2 separate regions of the Homo sapiens genome follow, and region 2 is linked to region 1. The links come from fine-mapping of genetic effects on gene expression. A gene starts in region 1. The other region holds a variant in brackets. All regions are shown on one strand. Distances are from middle to middle.

Region 1 (4,386 bases):
CCCACCCTCGTGTGCTCTCCTCTGCGGAGAAGAGAGGGCTCCCGGCTGCCTCGGATCTCCCTCTGCGCCCCAGACGCGGAAAGTTTCCCATTCGCGATCCGCGTCTGCGCTCTTCCTTCATCCTGAGCAGCGGAGCTCCGAGGCCGCGCTGGCTGCACCGGCCCAGATGCGCTCACCCTCAGGCACGCCAACCCCCGCCTCCCGCAGCCCGCAGAGGCGGGCAAAGGGATTTGAGGCGTCAGGATGCCGGGTCAGCTCTCTGCAGCCGGGCAGCCAGAAGAACCCTGCTCCCGGGTTCCAGGGAGAGCTCGCAGGGTGGGGTCCTGACGGAGCCAGGGTTTCCCAACAAGCCCTTCTCATCAGTCCTCTCCTTCACCCTGCCGCGTCTCTCTGTTCTGCGCATTCCCAGGGAAAGGGGTGCTTACCTTAGGTCCCCAGCCTCCAACCCCCGCCCCCTGCAATGTCCAGGTGAGGGCTCCAGTGCCTTTCAACAAACCCCAGTGCCCTCTCGGCGGCGCTGGAACGAGGACCTCCCCCATGTAACCTTTCCCTCTAGAGCCCTCCTCCCAAAGTTGAGGGGGGACATTTTGATCCACTTAGGAAAGTCTCTTGTTCCAAGGGTAGGGGAACAAAGTACAGGGTTTGCATTCCTTCTGGGTTACACCAACCCCTCCCCCCTCGCTGTCAGGACCACCTTCCGGGCTCAAATTCTGCAGCTTCTCCCATCAGCAGACCCAGCACTCCCCAAGGACTTCGGGGTAGAAGGAGTTGGGGTTATTTTTAAGGGGGCACCCCTTCCTGGCAGGCACTCTCAGAGCCTAGGTAGGCACCTCCTGCTGGGACAAGGCTATGGCATAGGACAGAGGTGATGCCCACCTCTATCATCCAGTGGGGCTCGGGGTCGAGACCTTATTGATCATAAAGACGACTTTTTGGCACCTCGCGTCCCGCTCCCCTCCGAGGCGGAGCCAGGCTCTGACTCCAGCCAGGCTGAGGTTGGCACCAGGCTCCGAGGAGGATCCCGGACGCGGAGCCTGTAGTCTCGGTGCCTGCGGCTCTTCGCTGGTCCCGCCTCCCTCCCTCCTGGCTTTTAGCCTCACGTTGGCTCTCTGCTCACTGCGCGAAAGGGTTCAGCTCCATTTAAGACCCACTACGCGGCGGCACTGGGTGGGAGGCCGGCCGCGGACCCTGGGGCTGCGGAGCCACCTCTCACTGGCTCCGGAGAACCCGCTCGGCTTCAACCTCCTTCTAGCTGTCTTAGCCTAACCCGGGAGCAAGTCCACACGGCGGGACACACACACACACACACACACACACACACTGAGCTGCTCACAACTCCCCAGCCCCGGAAGCGTCCATACCTCCCTGCACACGATAACCACACGCTCCATGGCACGCATACACACACTCCCAGCCCCATGAAGCCCACGACTCCCAGGCACCTGCACCCCCACCCATCCCACATAAGCAGACTCTTGTCCAGTGTCACAGTCCCATCTCCTGTGCACACAGAAATAGTAATCCGCTGTCGTACACCCCTAGAGACCTGCACACTCGGGACACACGTGAAACGCCAAACCTCACATACCCACCCCCTAACACCTCACACCCACAGTGACACAAGCTCACACACTTCACACCCTCACAGGGAAGGTGGCACATGTTCACACCCTCCCCCCAACATTCGCTCACACTCTCACACACACACCTTCTCCATGTAACTGACACAGACACTCTAACACCCATCCAGACCCTCGCTCACTCACACGCAGACCCCACACCATCACACACACACGCACACACACACTTGCATCTCTAAATACACTCCCGCACCTTCTGCCCACACAGCTCCTTCCCGGACACCCTCACCCAGACACACAACAAAGACACACAATTTACACACACACACACACCCTGGCACAAATCCATGAGCGCTCTCCAAGAGGCGTCCTCCCTCCCTCATCGAGCCAACCAGCTCCACAGACCCCGGGCAGGACCGGTGCTCGTAGCCCGAGCCTCTCGGAGCGACCCCGGCCAGCGCCCTCCCCCGGCACCCCGTCCCCGCGCACGTTCACCGCTCGGCTCCCGCCAGGCGCCCGCGCACTCACCGCGCGCCAGGTCCAGGATCGCGGCGAGCAGCAGGCAGACGCAGCGGCGGAGGCTCGGGGCGGTTCGCATGGTGCCCGGGAGCTGGCGGCGGTGGCGGGGCGGCGGGGGTGGAGGCGGTGGCGGCGGGTCCCCTCGCCATGGGCTCAGACGCGCTCCTGCCTCCGGCCACTGGCCGAGGCGGTGGCGGGCAGCGCGGAGAGCCGCGGGGGCGCCCCCATGCCGCCGCGGCCAGGCAGCCCGGGCGCCCGGCTCGACTCGGCTCCGGCTCTGCGAGGCGCAGCGACCCTCGCGCTCTGGGCGTCCTCGGGGCTCGCCGCGGTTCTCGGCTCCCTAGCTGCGCGCGGTGCCCACCGCGGCCCAGAGTCCGATCGGCTGCAGCGCCGGAGTTTGGAGCCGAATCGCGCTCTCTGCCTCGCGCTCGCCTCTCCCGGCGGCGCGAGCACCCCCCTCCTCTCGCCCTCCCTCCGTCCCTCCCCCTCTCCCCGCCCCCCCGCCCTCCTTGCCCTCCCCTCGCCGCGCTCTCCGCGTATTATACAGACTTTTCTTTAATCCTTTCTGGGCTGTTCGGCTCTCGTCCGCTAAGCCGATTTATTGCAGGGAGAAGGAGAGCTCACCCCCTCCTAACCTCCCCTCTCCCCTCACTCAGGTCCCCCCTCACTCAAAACTGGCTTGCTGCCTCCAGCTTCTTAACCCTTACCCAGGTGACCCAACACCCCGCCCTGGAAGCTATGCTCCATCGGATCCGCCTTTACCTAGCCCCTCCTATCCCCGGGATTACCATCGCCCTCCCCGCTACTCAGCCTGATGAAAGGAGGCAGCCTCCCTCCCGAGAGGGAAAGATGCCATCCTGGGAGCAGGGCAGGCAGGGTGTGGCTCTGGAGTTCTGACCTTGCCAACGATGAATGCCCTCATTGGGCAAGATTAAGGGGTTTCCATGTTCTGAAACTTCCCCAATTACGGCTGCTCCTTCCCCCAGGGACCCACGGAAATGGGGTGTGTTCTGTCTTTTTCCCATGTGCTAGGATCCAGCCAGGAAGGGTGAGGAACTGATTGTTTCCTCCTGGCAGAGACCAAGTTTCCACCTTTTTGCCAGACCTGACAGCTTTTCTTCCCAGGTCCGAGAAGAACAGGTTTGGGACTTGTATGTTACCATTACTCTCCCACCAACACACACGCGAGCACACACACACACACACACACACACACACACACACCATTGAGCCTCAGCCCTGGCGGTGGACTTTGAGGCCTCCTGCGAGGATGAAGGGGAGGGGTACTCTAGCCCTTGGAGTGGACTGGGGATGTGGTTAGATGAGGAAGTTCAGGAGATAGAATTTCACCATTGGTAGGGACCCAGAAGATTGGCAAAGCCCAGAAAAACCAGCACGACCAGGGGCAAAACCTGCTCAGAACTCAGGTGGGTCCCTTTACCCAGGCCTTCTATGGAGAATCTCCAGCTTCCCTAGCTCTGGCAGGTTGCTGAGTCAGGCTGTTGCATCGTTTACCTACATGGGCAATGGGTCTATAGCCAGTTCCATCTCCAGCAGCCCTCTGAGAGGAGTGTAGGGAGTGGGGTGGGCAATGGGTGGTTGCTGGGCTGCCTCTGGGTGAGCTTTGTGCAGAGATGTCCATGAAAGTGAACTGCTCCCTCCTCCTGCCCTCTGGAACCTCACCCCATCGCCTCCCAAGGCAGCTCTGCGGCTCAGCTTGCTCACCCACCCCAGAAGGAGCGATTTGCATTTATGAAGATCTGAAAGCATACGTTCACCTGACAGGCTTTAGAATGATCCTCTCAGTAAAATAATAATAATGATCATAATAAACCCTTATAAATAGGTGTTTGATTACAGTTTGTCCCTAAGTGGGATTTTTTTTTTTTTTTTTTTTTTTTTTTTTTGTGAATCAGACTAATTGGTTCCAGGTTGATTGGACTGCATATGGCTTGAACACTTGATGAACACTGGAGTCTTAGGTCCTTTCTTCTCCCTTTGGCTGCTGTTCTTTGCTCCCTCTCACTCGCATCCACCCAGGTCTCCCCTTCTCCAGGCTGCTGAGGGTCAGCTTGAGGTCACCTCTCCCCCTCACCTTCTTCTCAGGCTGCAGGGCACAGTCCCTTACTGCCTCCTCCCTGGCCCTCCCTCCCCACTCTGACCCAAGAAAAAGTCAACAAACCCAAAAGTCCATCCCAGGTTCTAAATCCTCTGTGGAAGGGGCTCCCTGGCTGGGGAACAGCATCAGGTTCATGCGGTTCCTTGTGCTGGTCTGAGTTGTGCAGGG
Region 2 (4,386 bases), 32 kb before region 1:
GGGTGGATGATGAAGTCCCAGATTGAGCCAAGGCCATCTGGGAAGGGGCAGGGAGGGCCCGAGGGCCAGGGAAGACTTCCTGGGTCTTGTATCCTAATCTTCATTTTGGGCAGGGGGAGAAGAACCATCAGGTGATCAAGTAAGGGTAGAACATCTGACCATCACAGCTCCAATAATGTGGCAAAGGCGGAACAAGCCAGGGCGTTGAGTCAGAGAGGCCTGAGTTCTAATCCCGGTTGGACCAGTTAATTGACCACTCTGGGCCTCAGTCTTCTCATCTGTAAAATGGAGACGAGCCTCCTACATAGGCTGTTGTGAGGATTAAGGCCTTTATAGGTGCTAGTCATAGAGTAGTTGTTCATTAAATGGAGTCCCCTTGTCCTGATACGGATTGCTAGAGAAAGAGAAGCACGTGCTTGTTTCTCACCTTCTCTCCTCACCCTGTTGGTTTTGGTTTTGTTTATTTTTCATCCAAACTGTGCTTTATTTTATATATACATATACATATAAAAATTATTTTGCGACAGTATCACTCTGTTGCCCAGGCTGGAATGCAGTGGCACAATCTTGGCTCACTGCAGTTTAGGCCTCCGGGGCTCAAGTAATCCTCCCACCTCAGCTTCCCAAGTAGCTGGGACCACAGGCATGCACCACCATGCCCGGCTGATTTTTGTATTTTTTGTAGAAATGGGGGTCTTGCTATGGTGCCCAGGCTGGTCTCAAAGTCTTGGCCTCAAGCAATCGGCTCGCCTTGGCCTGCCGAAGTGCTGGGATTACAGGTATGAGCCACTGTGCCCAGCCATGAACTGTGCTTTAAATTGTATAAAGTGTATGTCCATCTAATAACTTGTGAAACAGCTGGAGATGTTGTCCAGGAATGTATTATTGTCCCCGTCTTTACAAATAAGGAAATGGAGGCCCAGAGAGGTAAAGCGACTTGCCTAAAGTCATCCAGCAAGTTGAGAGTAGAGCAGAGAATTAGCTCTCCAGGTCCCTCACTCTCAGTCATATGCTTCTTCCTGCCCCAGTGGCTACTGGTGATCCACAGCATCCTCCCTGTCCTCTGTGTGTCAGCCTCTCCCCCAACCCCCTGCCCTACATCCCTGTGTTCCAGCAAGTTCTCTGCCTGCTGAGAACTTGATGACAGCCAACCCTGCTCAACCAGAAAGTGGGAAGTTCCTTCTTTTGTCTGACTGCAGCTTCTCTTGCTTTAAAGTCAACCTATCTCTTTTTCATCATTGGCAGGTGGGCAAAACTTTGGCCCACCATTCACCTCATTACATAATAATGACAGTAGTCATTATAATAAATAGAAACAAGACAAAGCAAGGTCTCAGAGCTTTAAACTCTCTCTCTCCTCCTCCCTGTCTTCCTCCCGACTAGATGAGACCTTGAGCTTAAGATCCTTCCTTCTCAAAGCCAATTCCCATCAGCCTGGATGCCCAGCCTTCAGTTCCACTTGTCCCAGCATCCTGTCCTGCTGGGTGACCCCCGAGGTGGTGAGGAAAGAGAAAAGGTTGTGAAGGCATGGAGACTGGGGTGCTTCACTCTGGTCGTGCTCTCCTCAGATGGATGCTAAGCCCTCATTGTGCCACGTTTGCTGGGTTCCTGTGTGCAGACACAGGTCAAAGGCCACAGGGAGCAGAGGGCTAAGGGGTGTACAAGATTCACACCTGGGCTACCTCCTCCCCCAGAGAGCTGGGCAGCAAAGAAATGTGGTCTCAGGCCTCAAAGAATAAGTGGGGAGAAGGGGCAGCCCGCAGAGGATGGTAATCCTGGGTGTAAATGCCATGACAGTGGAAGGAGCCTATGTGGATGCTGAAGAGGGATCCCCCCTGCCAAGCCAAGCACAGGGCGTAGTCAGGGAAGACTTCCAAGAAGAGGTGACCACTGAGCTGAGTCCAGAAGGATGTCTTGGCATGAGCCAGGTGAAGAGGAATGGGAAGGCAACCAGGCAGAGGGCACAGCAGGAGCAGACACGCGACTGTGAAGCATGGTCTGGCTGGGGAACTGGAGCCACGATGTGGGAGTGCCCGCTTCCATGGAGCATGCATATGCGGCCGCCTCCAGTGCTTTCCAGATCCTCACCCATGTGATCCCCACAGCTGCCCCCACTCTAGGCACATTGAGGCTTGGTTTGGGCTCCCCGAGATGCAGACTGTGAGAAAATAATTCAGATGCAGGTAGCTTATTCGGGAAGTGACCCAGGAAACATCAGTGAGGGAGCAGGAAGGCAGGGCAGGATACTGGGTGCATTAAGCCAGCTTTCCTGCAGGCAACTAGAACTCCACCCTGCTGGGGAACTAGGCGAGACAGGGTAGAAGATACACCTCCAAGTATCAACACCAACAGCAAGGAAGCTGCGTGATTCCAGCA[C/T]TCTGGGATGCCGAGTGGAGAGAATCGCTTGAGTCTACAAGTTTGAGACCAGCTTGGGCAACATAATGGGACCTCTGTCTCTACAAAAAATATTTAAAAATCAGCCAGGCACGGTGGTGCACACCTGTAGGCTCAGCTACTCAGGAGGCTGAGGCAAGGATTGTTTGAGCTGGGGAGGTTGAGGCTGCAGTGAGCCGTGATCGCACCACTGCACTTCAGCCTGAGCGACAGAGCGAGACCCTGTCTAAATAAAATTTTTTATTTTTTTTAAAAAAAAGGAAGTTGGGATATTCATTCTCGAACTCCCTGTCTGTCCTTGGTTGAGAGCTGCTTCCAGGAGCCCTAGCTCTCTGCACTTCTGGCCTGCCCTGTGCACTGGCCAGGGATGCTGCCTCAGGCAATGAGTTTCATTCACAGTAAGCAGACTTTGGCGGGTGGAGAGAAATACAGAGAGTACAGCCAGGCACTGACAGCATCTGCTACAATATTAACCCCATCTCACAGATGAGGAAATTGAAGCCTAGGGCATCCAGATAATGAGGCCTAGGTCACACACCCAACACGTTGTGGGGCTGGCCTTCAAACCCAGAGACCTGTCCCAGAGCCTTTGACCATAACCACTGAGCCACACTGCCTGACAGTGGTCCATTCCTGACCTGACGACAGCACTGCAGAGGGTGGTGAAAAATGAAGACAGAGGGGAAGGCCCTGGGCTCTGGAATGGGAGCAAGAAGCTCTGGGAGGCCGAAGACACTGGGAAGAGGGTGGGTGAGATGGATCGCCCAGGGAGCCTGCACGATCTTCCAGCAGGGGGAGGTGCTCAGGAACCCAACTGGCCCCATCATCGTGTGACGTAGACAGCTCCCGGAACCCTGAGCTTTGAGTCAGATGCCCCGGCTCCCATCCCTCTGGTTCAGCGACCGCATTTTCCCAGCCCAAATGAGAATTTCTCATTAGACACAGCACTCCCAGTGGGAAGGGAAGAGTGAATTTATTCATGCAAAAAGTGTTACCAAGATTTAAACATTAGAGTGCATTTGGTTATATATACCACAAATTATCTTTATTGAAAAGAATAAAAAGTGTTGCCATTGGGACCATCCTAGAGAATCCAGAAAATATGGACTCTGCACCCAAGAGGGAAGAGCGCTCCTGCACCAGCAGCATTGAATTCAGTGGGTAAGGATGTGGGTTTTAACGGCAAAGCCACGACCAAGCACACTGGCTGGCACTCAGCAGGTGCTTACTAAGTGCTTGAAGACAAAATGACAGGTCTGAATCCCAACTCTCCCAGACTCTCTTTGTGGCTCTCTCTGGGCCTCAGTTTCCTCATCTGTAAAAAGAGGACAATAATGTCCATTGACAAGACATTTAGCTAATTCAGGGAAGGGCCTTAGCGGGCATCCTGGCTCATAGTAAGTGCTCAGTTAATGGTGGTGGCGAGGGAGCAGATGCCAAGCTGGCATCTTGCACTTCTTTACCTAAAAGAAGTCTGCTGTGAGAGCACTTGGCCCATGTGTGGGGCAGGTCACTGAGAGGTGGGGGTTAGAGGATCAGTACCCCAGCTTCCTCGCCCCTTGCCAGGTGATTCAGAGTATGTCCCACACTGCCTGTCAGCGGTTCCCTCACTGAGAGAGCAAAAGTGAAAACCGCATCAGTTGCTTTTCTTTTCCCAGCCCACATCCCTCCTGCTGCTACCTCCTGGGGTCATTCCCAAAATAAACCCCTGCATCCAAATCCTTCTCTCTGGCTCTGCTTTGAAGGGAACCCCAAAAGCAAGCAATAACAGTAGCAGTAGTAGGAATACGGTCCCCCGTGCTAGACCCCAAAGAAGCAAGTGATCAAGCAACACCCCACTGGTCCCTGCTTACTTCTCAGGCCATCGTAAGGATGGATTGAGATAAACAGCTGGACAAAGCTGTGGAAATGAAGAAAGTGAGGCCACATGTCCTGCGAGGGATTATTATATTTCCTCGATGAGATAAGGATCTTAAAGCTCACTGGTTCTGT

Evidence for each region. PIP is the estimated chance that this variant, and not a neighbour inherited with it, causes the effect. A credible set is the group of variants that fine-mapping cannot tell apart.
Region 2: its variant is the best candidate, but not a certain one, in a credible set for the expression of IGSF21 in prefrontal cortex (GTEx, PIP 0.68).

What each region holds. Positions count from the first base shown.
Region 1 is chr1:18,105,921-18,110,306 of GRCh38, reverse strand. IGSF21 (immunoglobin superfamily member 21) reads right to left here and starts at 2,509. Exons shown (of 10, transcript NM_032880.5): 1 at 2,109-2,509. The coding sequence starts at 2,178.
Region 2 is chr1:18,138,202-18,142,587 of GRCh38, reverse strand. The region is part of intron 1 of IGSF21 (immunoglobin superfamily member 21); the gene reads right to left. Among named protein-coding and RNA genes, the nearest start is that of IGSF21, 33 kb to the right of the region's middle. RefSeq lists an enhancer at 1-367. The variant C/T (reference allele first, on the strand shown) is at 2,377.